Regions from separate parts of the Homo sapiens genome. Here region 2 is linked to region 1. Evidence: fine-mapped expression QTL. A gene starts in region 1. The other region holds a variant in brackets. All regions are shown on one strand. Distances are from middle to middle.

The links. PIP is the estimated chance that this variant, and not a neighbour inherited with it, causes the effect. A credible set is the group of variants that fine-mapping cannot tell apart.
Region 2: its variant is the best candidate, but not a certain one, in a credible set for the expression of ZFP36L1 in whole blood (INTERVAL, PIP 0.71).

What each region holds. Positions count from the first base shown.
Region 1 is chr14:68,790,412-68,795,782 of GRCh38, forward strand. ZFP36L1 (ZFP36 ring finger protein like 1) reads right to left here and starts at 2,656. Exons shown (of 2, transcript NM_004926.4): 1 at 2,471-2,656; 2 at 1-81. The coding sequence starts at 2,527. RefSeq lists enhancers at 1-189, 4,277-4,821, 4,484-4,643 and silencers at 2,814-2,883, 2,904-3,103.
Region 2 is chr14:68,729,154-68,734,524 of GRCh38, forward strand. It overlaps LOC105370547 (a long non-coding RNA gene), which reads left to right. Exons shown (of 4, transcript XR_007064227.1): 2 at 655-3,227; 3 at 4,793-4,986. Among named protein-coding and RNA genes, the nearest start is that of RAD51B-AS1, 46 kb to the left of the region's middle. RefSeq lists an enhancer at 1,583-2,136. The variant G/A (reference allele first, on the strand shown) is at 3,241.

The DNA of each region.
Region 1 (5,371 bases):
ACCAGCAGGGGTGCCCACTGCCTTTCTGTCCAGCAGGCAACCCCCTGCACTGGGAGCACTATAGTTGAGCATCTTGTTACCCTGGAGAGAGAAGAGAAAGGATGGTAAGGACAGAGGACATCCACCAGGATGTCCACTATGGGCAGCCCCCTACACAATCACAAACGCCCGCTCTTTCTCAAAGAACTCATCTCTACCTCGGCTCTAGCAAGCTCCCTTCCCTCTCTCCCTCCCATAGGCCATTCACCTGGGTTTATTTTGGCCCCATGCGTAAGAAACCACAAGATCCAAACTGTGTGACAAGCACCCTGCTCCATGCTGACTCCTGCAATGCAACCCCCATGTCCTCTGTCCCCAAAGCTACCACTTTAAAGTTCAACTTTTTTACTAGTCAAATAGATTCTTCAACTCAAAATATCTCACACAACCCAGACCTCTCTAGATTACCGCACCCCGCCCCCGCCACCGCCCGCGACAAAAACAGGTAAACCTCAGAAAGGAGTCTATCATAGGCTACGTTAGGTCCCCTTCCAATCAGTCTCTGCTTAATTGATACCCCCTCCTTCAAGACCTGGCCTAAGACTCTCAACTTCCTCCTTCAGAAGTGTTCCCTTCCTTTGGCAACAGGTTTTCAGACTGCCTTTGCTTTTTCTTGTGGGGAGGAGATTGGGGGCCTGGTCTGAGGTTGGGGGAGACAGGGATGTGATTCCTGAAAATAAAACTCTTTGCCCTAAGTTCCCGGAAGAGATATTTTCTACAATAATCTCTCTCACCATTTCCACTCAGCCCTAGCCCACCCCGCCCCCTTCACTGAGAAGATGCCTTTGCAATTAGTCTTTTGGCTGCAAGAGCAAGCTTGGATAAGAGCTCCAGTGTTTAATCTTTAACGCAAAGCTGCAGATGGAAAGGAAAAGGAAAGCACCAACCCCCCTACCCACCTCCTAGTCAATAGCGGATTGGGGGTGGTGGGGATGGGGGCAGAGCCACCAATGGCAGGTTTCTGTTCCAATAGGACCCTGGTCACCTGCCCAAATTGTACCCAAGATTTGGAAATGGTGCAGGTCAGGGACCTAGGAGTTAGTTCCCAGCCCATGTGGGTGTCATTGTGCAAATTCTAATGTTGGTCCCTTAGGATCAGCAGGGGGGGACCGGGAATCTGTAACTGCAACCACCCCACCGAGAGGATTACAGGAACCCAGTCGAGAGCTGGTTCCCAACAATGAGGTTCATTTAAAAAGTCGTGAGGGGGGAGGGGGGCCAAAGAAAGAAATAGATCAAAGAGCGGGAGAGTCGAGAAAAGAAGGAAGAAATGTTGGGGAGCGCTGGCAGCCGGGCTGGCAAGTGGAGTTTGGGAATGTGCAGGGAGGGAAGGAAGCTGAAAAATTCAAACTTTTTAAATGCTACTCTTCAGCTCCTCGGCGTCCCTGCACCCCAACCCTGCAGCCCTGGGGCGTTGGCAGCTGCACCAACAGGAGCAGCAAGCTGGGAAAACAGAGCAACATGACCCGACGTGTTAAGAGAAGGCAAAACACTTCAGCAATTAAAAAGTAGCCCAGCAGCTTCACCCTTTCAAATTGGGAGGGGGAGGTTGGAAAGAAATTTAACAACATCCATAGACTTTTGCTATGTACATTTAAACCGCAGTCCTGGAACATTCCGAGTTTAAAACTTGCTTTTTCAACACTGGCTGACAAGCAACATGTTTTAAGGAGCCCCCCATTAAATCCTTACTCGCGGGACTCTCGAGTTCAAGCCAGCATTTTGTCGCCACCTCCCCCCCCAACCCCGCCCGCAATCGATGAGCCGCAATGCCTCGGCAACACAGGTAAGCGGGTCAACCTGAATGCCTCTTTCACCCCAAAGTTTGCTGCACGATCGGCTATCGCGGGAAGAAGCCCAACGGAGCTAGGGCGGACTCAAGCCCCACTGCAAACTTGTTCTGCAACATCTTTTTGAATCACAACTTGGCCTTTCTTCCTCGCATATCCCCAGCTCCCCCCAAAGAGTGGAGGAAAACATTGTCCCGAGACTCACTTCCCCGAGGGACCTCCCACTCCCAACCCCACGGGTGGGTAATGCCGCTGGACAGACCTAGGGCGCAGACTGGGAACCCGATCAGACCAGCAAACCTGGGATCCAGCAGCACGTTACGTAAAACAGGATCGCCCAAAACTTGTCCCAATCCCAGCCCTCCCCCCGAAGCCCCCGGGCTGCCCTGCCAGGCAAACTTCGCCCCTCAAAACCCTGGCCTCCAGATTCACATGTAATCCCCGCCAGCAACTGTTGAAACTCAAAGGGTGGGAAGGACGGGGCCAAATTCCTTCAAACTTGGGAGAAATGCCGGAGGAGAAAAGAATCATCTCGCTGCACCACTTTCCCCATTGCCTTCCAAGACCCAAACTTTTGGGGGTTCTTTCTTAAGGCAAAAGAAAAAGACTTTTTGAAAAGCAAATGCTCCGCCCCCCTTTACCTTGCATAAAACTTCGCTCAAGTCGAAGATGGTGGCAGACACGAGGGTGGTGGTCATCCTGTGCGTTCGCGCGAGCCAGGGGCGAGGATCTGGTGTGTCGCGAAGGTCCCGGTGCGGGGAAGGCGCAGCCTCTCCTGTCTGGAGTCCCACACGCCAGTTCCCGGCGCCCCTCGCCTTTCTGACTCCGGGCTGGGGCGCGCAAAGCCCAATTTATAAAGTTCAGATTTGGTGGGCCGGGGGGAGGAGGAGCTTTAAACTTATTTAAATGAGGAAGAGGAGGAAAAAGAAGTTGATTGACACTGGAGTTGAATCAGCCATGCGGTCAGGCGGGGAGGGGGGGCAGGGGGAGGAGAAGAAACTTTCAAAAGGAAGAAGGGGGAGGGGAGACGAGAAAAGAAGGCGGAAAAAAAAAACCCCACTGTGAGCCGCGCACAACTTTTTTTTTTTTTTCTTTAAGAGGAAAAGTTTCAAGTCGGCTGACTTCCCTACCCGGCGCTTCAGGCGCCCCCTCTCCGGGGCCGCGCGGGCGCAGAGCGGGAGGGGCGCGCCCCCTCCTTTGTCAGCCTCAGAGCGCGGCTGTGACGTCACTCATTCCACTCCCTCCGGGGTTCTTGTTGTCATGTTGTTGTTTTTTGTTGGGCAGGAAGGCGGGCTCGACTTTCTCTTTTTGCCAGCGGGAGCTGAAGCCCGTCCTTAGCGCCCGGGCCGCGGTTTCCATCTTGAGCTGGCGGTCTCCTTGAAACTTCCCCAAGTGTCTGCACAACTTACCTTTTCCCGACTTCTCTTCGACACTCGGCTCCCTTCGGCAAACCGGGCAGGCCGAGGACATTAGAAATTTGGGACGCACAGAATGTTCAAGCCTAGGATTTTATGTTGCTGTTTTTTTTCCAGCGGGGCGTAGGGTGGGGCGCGCTGCTGGGGGGACTAGGGAAACTTTTTCCCCAGGAGGACATGGTCTGGCGGGGGCGAGCGCGGCACAATTTAGTGCGCCGCACGCGTCGACACTCGCGCTCGCTTTGCAGCCGGCGCTCTCCGGGTGTGGGCGGGTGGGGGGCGCCGCAAAAAAAGACCACAACCCGGGACGATTGTTTGTTTTACCAGGCCTAGGCGTGCCGTTTCTTTTCACGCATCCAATCTTTAAACTTTTTAGTCAAGAAAACCCTAATCCTTCCTGAATGCCCCTTCCTCCCAGAAAAAGCCCACCGAGCAACTCACTACTTTCCACGCGCGCTCCGAATTCTGGGCGGCGCCACAACCCTCCCTCCTCCTCCATCCTCCCCACACACACCTCAAGACTCTAGAACAATGAAAAAAGGTTACTTTGGTAAGAATGAAGGTAAAGAGGTGGAGGGAGGCGGCACTTTTAACTTATTGTTGCTTCTCTCTCGCCCCCACCGGAGTGGAACATATGGCTTGTCACGCTGCGCCGTTTTGGCGGGAGGTGGAGAGGGGGACATGGGAGCCACGAAACCGAAGGGCCCGCAATGGAGCATGACTCCCTTGAAAATGATAAAATATATACTGTTAGGTTTGGATGCCGCCCACCCAAATAAAAAGTTAACGAGTCCCCCACCCGCCCCCTGCGCCTTGGCCCGACTGCTGGCGTGATGACCCAGGCGGAAGTCGCAGGGCTGCGCTTCTTTCCGATTTCCACGCGGGCTCCGCCGCCCCCCTCGGCCCTCGCACGTTTCTTCCCAGCACTCGAGGCCGCCGAGTCTGTTATGAAACCCGGTGCTGCGGAGTGGCTAAGATTGAGTTCCATTGCGATGTAATTAGGTCACCCCATTATGAGCACGTTTCTTTGGAAAGGACGGGGCGGGCCGAAGAGAGCGCATTCTCACCACCCCCAACACACACTTTTTTTTAAAACTGCATTTCTTATTTATTCGTAAACATCTGGGCAAACCCAGCGAAACCTTCCAAATCACAATTGTTTGAGAAACCGGCTGTTTTTCAACTTTGTGAAACCCAACTTTTGCTGCAGCCACGAACCTACGTGATCCCAGCGGGGTCGGCTTTCATTTGTCTCCTCTGCCCGAAATGGATGGCCCCCACTTTAACTCGGCTGCTGCCCCTCGCTTGTTCTGCTGCTGCCCTCCAGCCGTCTGTTGCTTCCCTCCCCCGCTCCCATTTTTCAGCTTTTCTTGAAATCTGGCAAGCGCCAGAAAGGGAAATAACTTCCATCCACCTTAATTTAAATCATTCAAGTGTAGGTTTCTTTCTTAGAGGGATGTTTGCTCGTTCCTTTCCCAAGTGGGTGTTGGGGCGGTGGGGGAGAGATTTCGTGCAGTTTCTTGGTGATGAGGTAATGAGTTCCAGATTTCAGGACAGAGCAGAGTGCGCGTTGAAACCACAAGGTTAGTCTGAGTTCTGATGTGAAGCTATTTCGGTTTTTTATTCCCCCGGCCTCCACCCATTCCCGCTCCCCCACCCCCCACCCCCCCCAAAAAAGAGGCCGGCTGGTCTTTAACTCCCGAGGGTTCGCGAAGCTCAGCTGGGGGGACCGGAGGAGGGGCTGGAAAAAAGCAAAGGGGAAGGGGACTGGGAGCGGGCGGGGCCCCCTTCCCGGCCCAGGGCCTGTCCCCGCGGGGCACCGGCTATGCCCCTGCTTCGGGCGGCGCCGCTTTCCCTCCAAGGCTGCGGGACCGGCCAGGAGCACCATCAGGCGCCCCAGAATGGCTACAAAGTGGATTTTTCCAAAGAAAGCTGATTCCTCGAATTTCCTCGGCTTTTCCAACTCCCGGAGGCCCTCCCCTCCCCCTCTCCCCGGGGGCGCGGGCTCCGCAAGGCTGCGACTGGCCTAGCCCGCTCGCTCCCGAGTTGTTTACCGGCCCCGCCGACCAAGGGTTTGTTCCAGCTCCCAGAGCCTGTCTCTATAATTAAACTCTTTTTTAAATTGTC
Region 2 (5,371 bases), 61 kb before region 1:
GAGCTCACGTGACTTTCTCTTCCCTGGGTTGCCATCCTCTGCGTATTTTCTTTTTTTTTTTTTTGAGACAGAGTCTCAGTCTGTCGCCCATGCTGCAGTGCAGTGGCACAATCTCAGCTCACTGCAACCTCCGCCTCCCAGGTTCAAGTGATTCTCCTGCCTTCGCCTCCTGAGTAGCTGGGATTACAGGCGTGCACCACCACACCCGGCTAATTTTTCTTTTTTTTTTTTTTTTTGTATTTTTAGTAGAGACAGCGTTTCACTATGTTGGTCACGCTGATCTCGAACTCCTGACCTTGTGATCCGCCTGCCTTAGCCTCCCAAAGTGCTGGGATTACAGGCGTGAGCCACTGCACCCAGCCTCTCTGCATATTTTCTAAGTAGCTTGTTATTCTGCATTGCCCAGACTTGTTTCTCTGCCAACCCACCAGTCAGTAAGTAAATTAATTAGGTGATAAGTGATTCCTTGATCTTTTTATTATTACTATTTGGTTATGATGATTAAAGCAGATGGTCATCTGATTGGGCATAGGTCATGCATGCAAAGCAGCTGCAGTGGTATCTCAGGATTGTTTCCTTATCAGAGACCTGCCATCCAGGTGTTTCCTCATCTTAGGAGCCGCCCTCTAGGTTTCCTCAAATTGTGTCTTTCAGATGAGACCCACCCATCGGAGCCAGGCTTTGAAGGAACTGACCGCAGTGTGCATGAGGAAGTACTTCACGGTGATGACCCTCGCCACCCTCTCAGGAAAACACAGTGACCTCTCCCCCAACATCCCCTTCCCACTCCCAGGTCCCCCGGCAAAGGCAGAAGAACCAAGCAAGCCTTTCCACCAAAGCAGCCATGAACCCCATTCTCATCCTTTCCAAGAACTCTCTGCTATACCAGATAGGGGTTTGGGGTTCTGTTTTCCATTTTTTAAAAAAATCATTTCAAGACTCTTGAACAGTGTGTCGGTTTACACTATTCTATCTTCTTAAGCCACCATATCAACATATTCACTCTGCTTCCTTTCTTTTCATTTGGCAGATGCCACACTTTTAATGGCAGCAATAAAAGGTGTTTCTATCAATGCCAGGTGGGCAGCCCTGACCATCTAAAGCCTCGGAGAGGGTTATACCAAGTCTCCTGTACACCTCCGTGCTAGTGACAACATGTGGGGACCTCTCATCCCAAAGTTTTGGGACAAAGTCTCCCGTCCCTTATCATTTGTTTTCACTGAGGCTAAATGTATCTGTTCAGTACATGGATAGATTTTTAAGCTCCTCTCACAAAGTCTTGTGCTTGAGACAAAATCAGCCCAGGTTCTGCACTTTGTCTATATTTCAGCAGCTCTCCTGCTTGATATTAAAAATAGCCTTGTCTAGTCCATCGAGATCAGACCCAGGAGACAGGCGCCTGCTATTCTAATCTCTGCTTCACAAATAGCTCTCTATGGGCTCAAGCATCTATCAACACTTCCAGGGGTCTCCAGTTATAAAACAGGGCCAGGCCTAGTCACCTATAAAGGTAGGCTCTGCTTAACTCCCCTGAGCTGTCCATGAGGTTAGCATGAGGCCTACAACAATCACATTTCTACCATGGACCAGAGACTTCCAATGGTGACTCAAAACTGAGAAGCAGTTAAGAGCATCCCCCACACTCAGGGTATCCTGCATTTCCCAGGCCAGAACCTACAAAAGGTTCCCTTGAGACTCAAACTCAAGCAGCACTGGTAAACAGGCTGCCCCTCCCCGCTTCTTCCCTCCTCCTGCAAACCACCCCCCATCCCTCACTTTCACCTCCCTTCCTCCCCAAGCCCATCTTGTACTCTGTGAAAAACTGTAGTCCCCTCAGTTGCCAAGGGAACCAAGCCTTTTATTCCATCCGTGACTAGCTGGTTGGGCTGAGGAGTGGGGCAACAACTGGTACCCAGGCCTTTGGAAGCCCAAGCCCTCCCTTTTTCCCAAAGGGGGAGGGGTGGGCTGCACCCCCCGTTGCCTTTTCACCCAAACCCAGCTGGGTGGGACCGAGCCCTTGGGCTCTCAGGAGCTCCCTGGCTGTGGGCTGGGGAGATCAGTGCTCCCCAGGCCCTCCTCTGGCCCTGGCCCTTTCCAGAGGACAATAGCCTTCATGCAAGGGAAAATTCCATCGCCCAGGGTTCAAGTCTCCAAGGAGTTGCTGGGGCCTCTATTTAGCCTGGAGTGGGCTCTGAGGAGCCGCTGCAGCTGCCCGGCTTGTTTTCCCCCTCGCTGTGTTTTATTTTTAACCCCTGAGCTGCCAAGGATTGTTTTTCCCCAACCAGTGCCTGGGAACTAAGGGAGGGAAGAAATAAGGCTTTGTTCCCTTTGGGGAACTAATTGGGAAAGACAGGCAGTGTGGCCAGCTTGGCTCTATTAGGGTGTGGGGCTCCCACCCCTCACTGCACAACATCTTCACCCCAATCCATACCCAGGAGGCTGGGAGTGCAGAAGTGCCCCCCAGGATGCAACCAGAGGCCCGGGGGCTGGTGGGAACGCAAGTGCAGCTTCAAGACTGCAAAGGCAGCTCAGAGCCACTTTCTTGGGCTCCGAAGATATTCAGGAAATAAGATGTTGGGAGCTGGAAATGTCTATTTTTCCCATTTCAACCCCCCCCAAACTAACCCCTGCTTTTCTCCTGCTGGTGGTGGTGGTTGTTGTTTTCCAGACCTGCATAATGAACTCTAGAAGAAAAGTGAGGGAACTCAAAAAAGTAAGAAACCAGAAAATAAAGACATTATACTTTTAAACACTAGGCTAATCAATGGGAAACACCCAGCAACCCCACTTATAAGTTTACTCCGTAAAAAATATTCCTTATACTCAGAAATTTAATTTCATTGCAAATCAGCTAGGAATTAATGAAAAATTTCTTCCACGGCCATTTTATTTTAAGATCAAATGGATTCCAGATAGGGACCCATTAAGAATCTAAGGACCATTTTGATCCCGTCTAGGAACAGAGCAAATTTCTAAGGAATCACCCACTTGCAGCAAGCCAGCACATTCAAGTTAGGGCTGTGGCATATGACACCCAGTGCGTTCAAGTAAAGACTGCTCGTCTATTTACCAAGAATATTTGAGAAAAGAAAATGCCCCTGCCTGGTGGACAATAGCACAAAGCATTTCTCTGTACCTGGGCACATTTGTTCCACTCGATAAAAGAGGACCCCTGACCCAGGTACACAGGCAGTTGGAGAAGAGGACAACGATGAACTGATACAAAGGTAAGAGGTTCCC[G/A]GTAGCATTGGAAGAACACAGATTGGTGCATAATGCATGGCATGTGCAATAAAAGTAAGTTGCATTAAAACTTCAGCCTTGTTAATGACTACAAAAAAAATTGTTAGAAAGAATGAATAAGATCTTGGCCAGGCACAGTGGCTCACGCCTGTAATCCCAGCATTTTGGGGGGCCGAGGCAGGCGGATCACCTGAGGTCAGGAGTTTGAGACCAGCCTGGCCAACATGGTGAAACCCCATCTCTACTAAATATACAAAAAAATTAGCCAGGCATGATGGTGCACGCCTGTAATTCCAGCTACTTGGGAGGCTGAGGCAGGAGAATCTCCTGAACCCGGGAGGCGGAGGTTGCAGTGAGCCAAGATCAAACCACTGCACTCCAGCCTGGGAGACAAGAGCGAAAAGAATGAATAAGATCTGATATTTGATAGCACAACAAGGTGACTATAGTCAATAATGATTGAATTGTACATTTAAAAATAACGAAAAGAGTATAATTGGATTGTCTGTAACACAAAGGATAAAAGCTTTAAGTGATGGATACCCCATTTACCCTGATGCAATTACTACACATTGTATGCGTGTATCAAAATATCTCTCATGCCCCATAAATACACACACCTACTATGTCCCGACAAAAATTTAAAATTTTTTTTAATTTTTAAAAATTTGTTGAAAAACCATCAGCCCTGTTAAGTTGCTCACACGTGCTGTTGCAGCCCCAGCTCACCCGGTAGTAAATCCTGCTGACACAGGGTCCCCCACAGCTATGGGTCTATCCTTCCTCTGGTGTGGCAAGACTACATTTTCAGGAAGCTGCTGGGCAGAATGAAGCAACTCAAAGCTCAGGAGAAGTGTCTACGTGCCTTTTAGGGTTGGGGTTTAACCCAGCACTCAGGGATTTCCCAGCATGCAGACAAAGGCACTGACAGTTACAGCAGAAGCTGGAAGGGTGAGTCAAGCCAGGACTCAGCACGCTTGAACCCATCCACAGCTCCCACTCACATCATCCCACACTCCCTTTTCACATTTACTCCAAGCATCTGGAGCCCCAAGCTCCTGTGCCTCAACCCATGCCCTCAGTAACAGTATCCATTGCCAAGCCAGAATTGACTCCGGGCCCACCTTGCCACTCACTCAGAGTCTGTGAGGAGTGGGCACCGCACGCAGCCGTGAAACAGGCCAACTCACAGGTGGGCTCCCCACTGCACGTCTTGTCCGAAAAGACACCCCTCAGCCCCATCAGTGTTGACTTTGCATTGCGCCATTAGATTATTTCTTTCAGCTCTTCTTAAGACAAATGGCTGGCTGTTGGGAGGCTGGCCAGGGTTAAGGTGGAGCCTCAATGTGGCCATTTTCACAGCCCCGGCAAAGCCTGTGGTTGATGCCAAACCCCCATTGAACTGAATAGAATGGAGGAAAGCTAACCAACCCACCAGAATAATAATCACTAATGCTATGGAGTGATCACACAGCAAGACTGTTCTAAGTGTTTTATGTGTATTCATTTATTTTTACCTCATCATAAGTACTATTATTTTTCTATTTTATAGATGAGAAAACTGAAACAAGGTCACAAACCAGATGATCTAAAGGGTAGCCACTACTGCCTCCTAAAGAACCCCAATCAGGAATCCCAGATTAATTTGCCCAGCATCCTGTTTGGAAACCACATGTCCACCCTGCAACTGTACCTGGCTTGTGTCCCACAAGGAGGAAGATGCAGGGGACTCCGGAAGCTAAGGAGGTAGACATGGGGTTTACTTGGGTTAATGTGGCCGGGGAGTCAGGAGACCTTGATTCCCATTCTGGCTCTGCCCCTATCCGCATGAGGATGGCCAACTGTTCCAACCATGGGTTCCACTCTCCTCATTGCTCAGCCACCAGGTTTCCAGGTCCCTCAGGCCCCTGCACATCCTCAGATATCTGAAGAACAGTGATCGGTGTGACGACAGGGCCCCTTCACAGAACGAACTTGACAAAGAACCACTCACCGCACACACGAGCCTTAGAATGCACGTGTCAGTGTTTTGGGAAATATGTGCTGTTTTGAAATGTGTCTGGGCCATGAGCAAGTTTGGGGGGAGACAGGATAGGAGCTTTTCTTCCAGTTAATGAAGTGAGGCTTCATG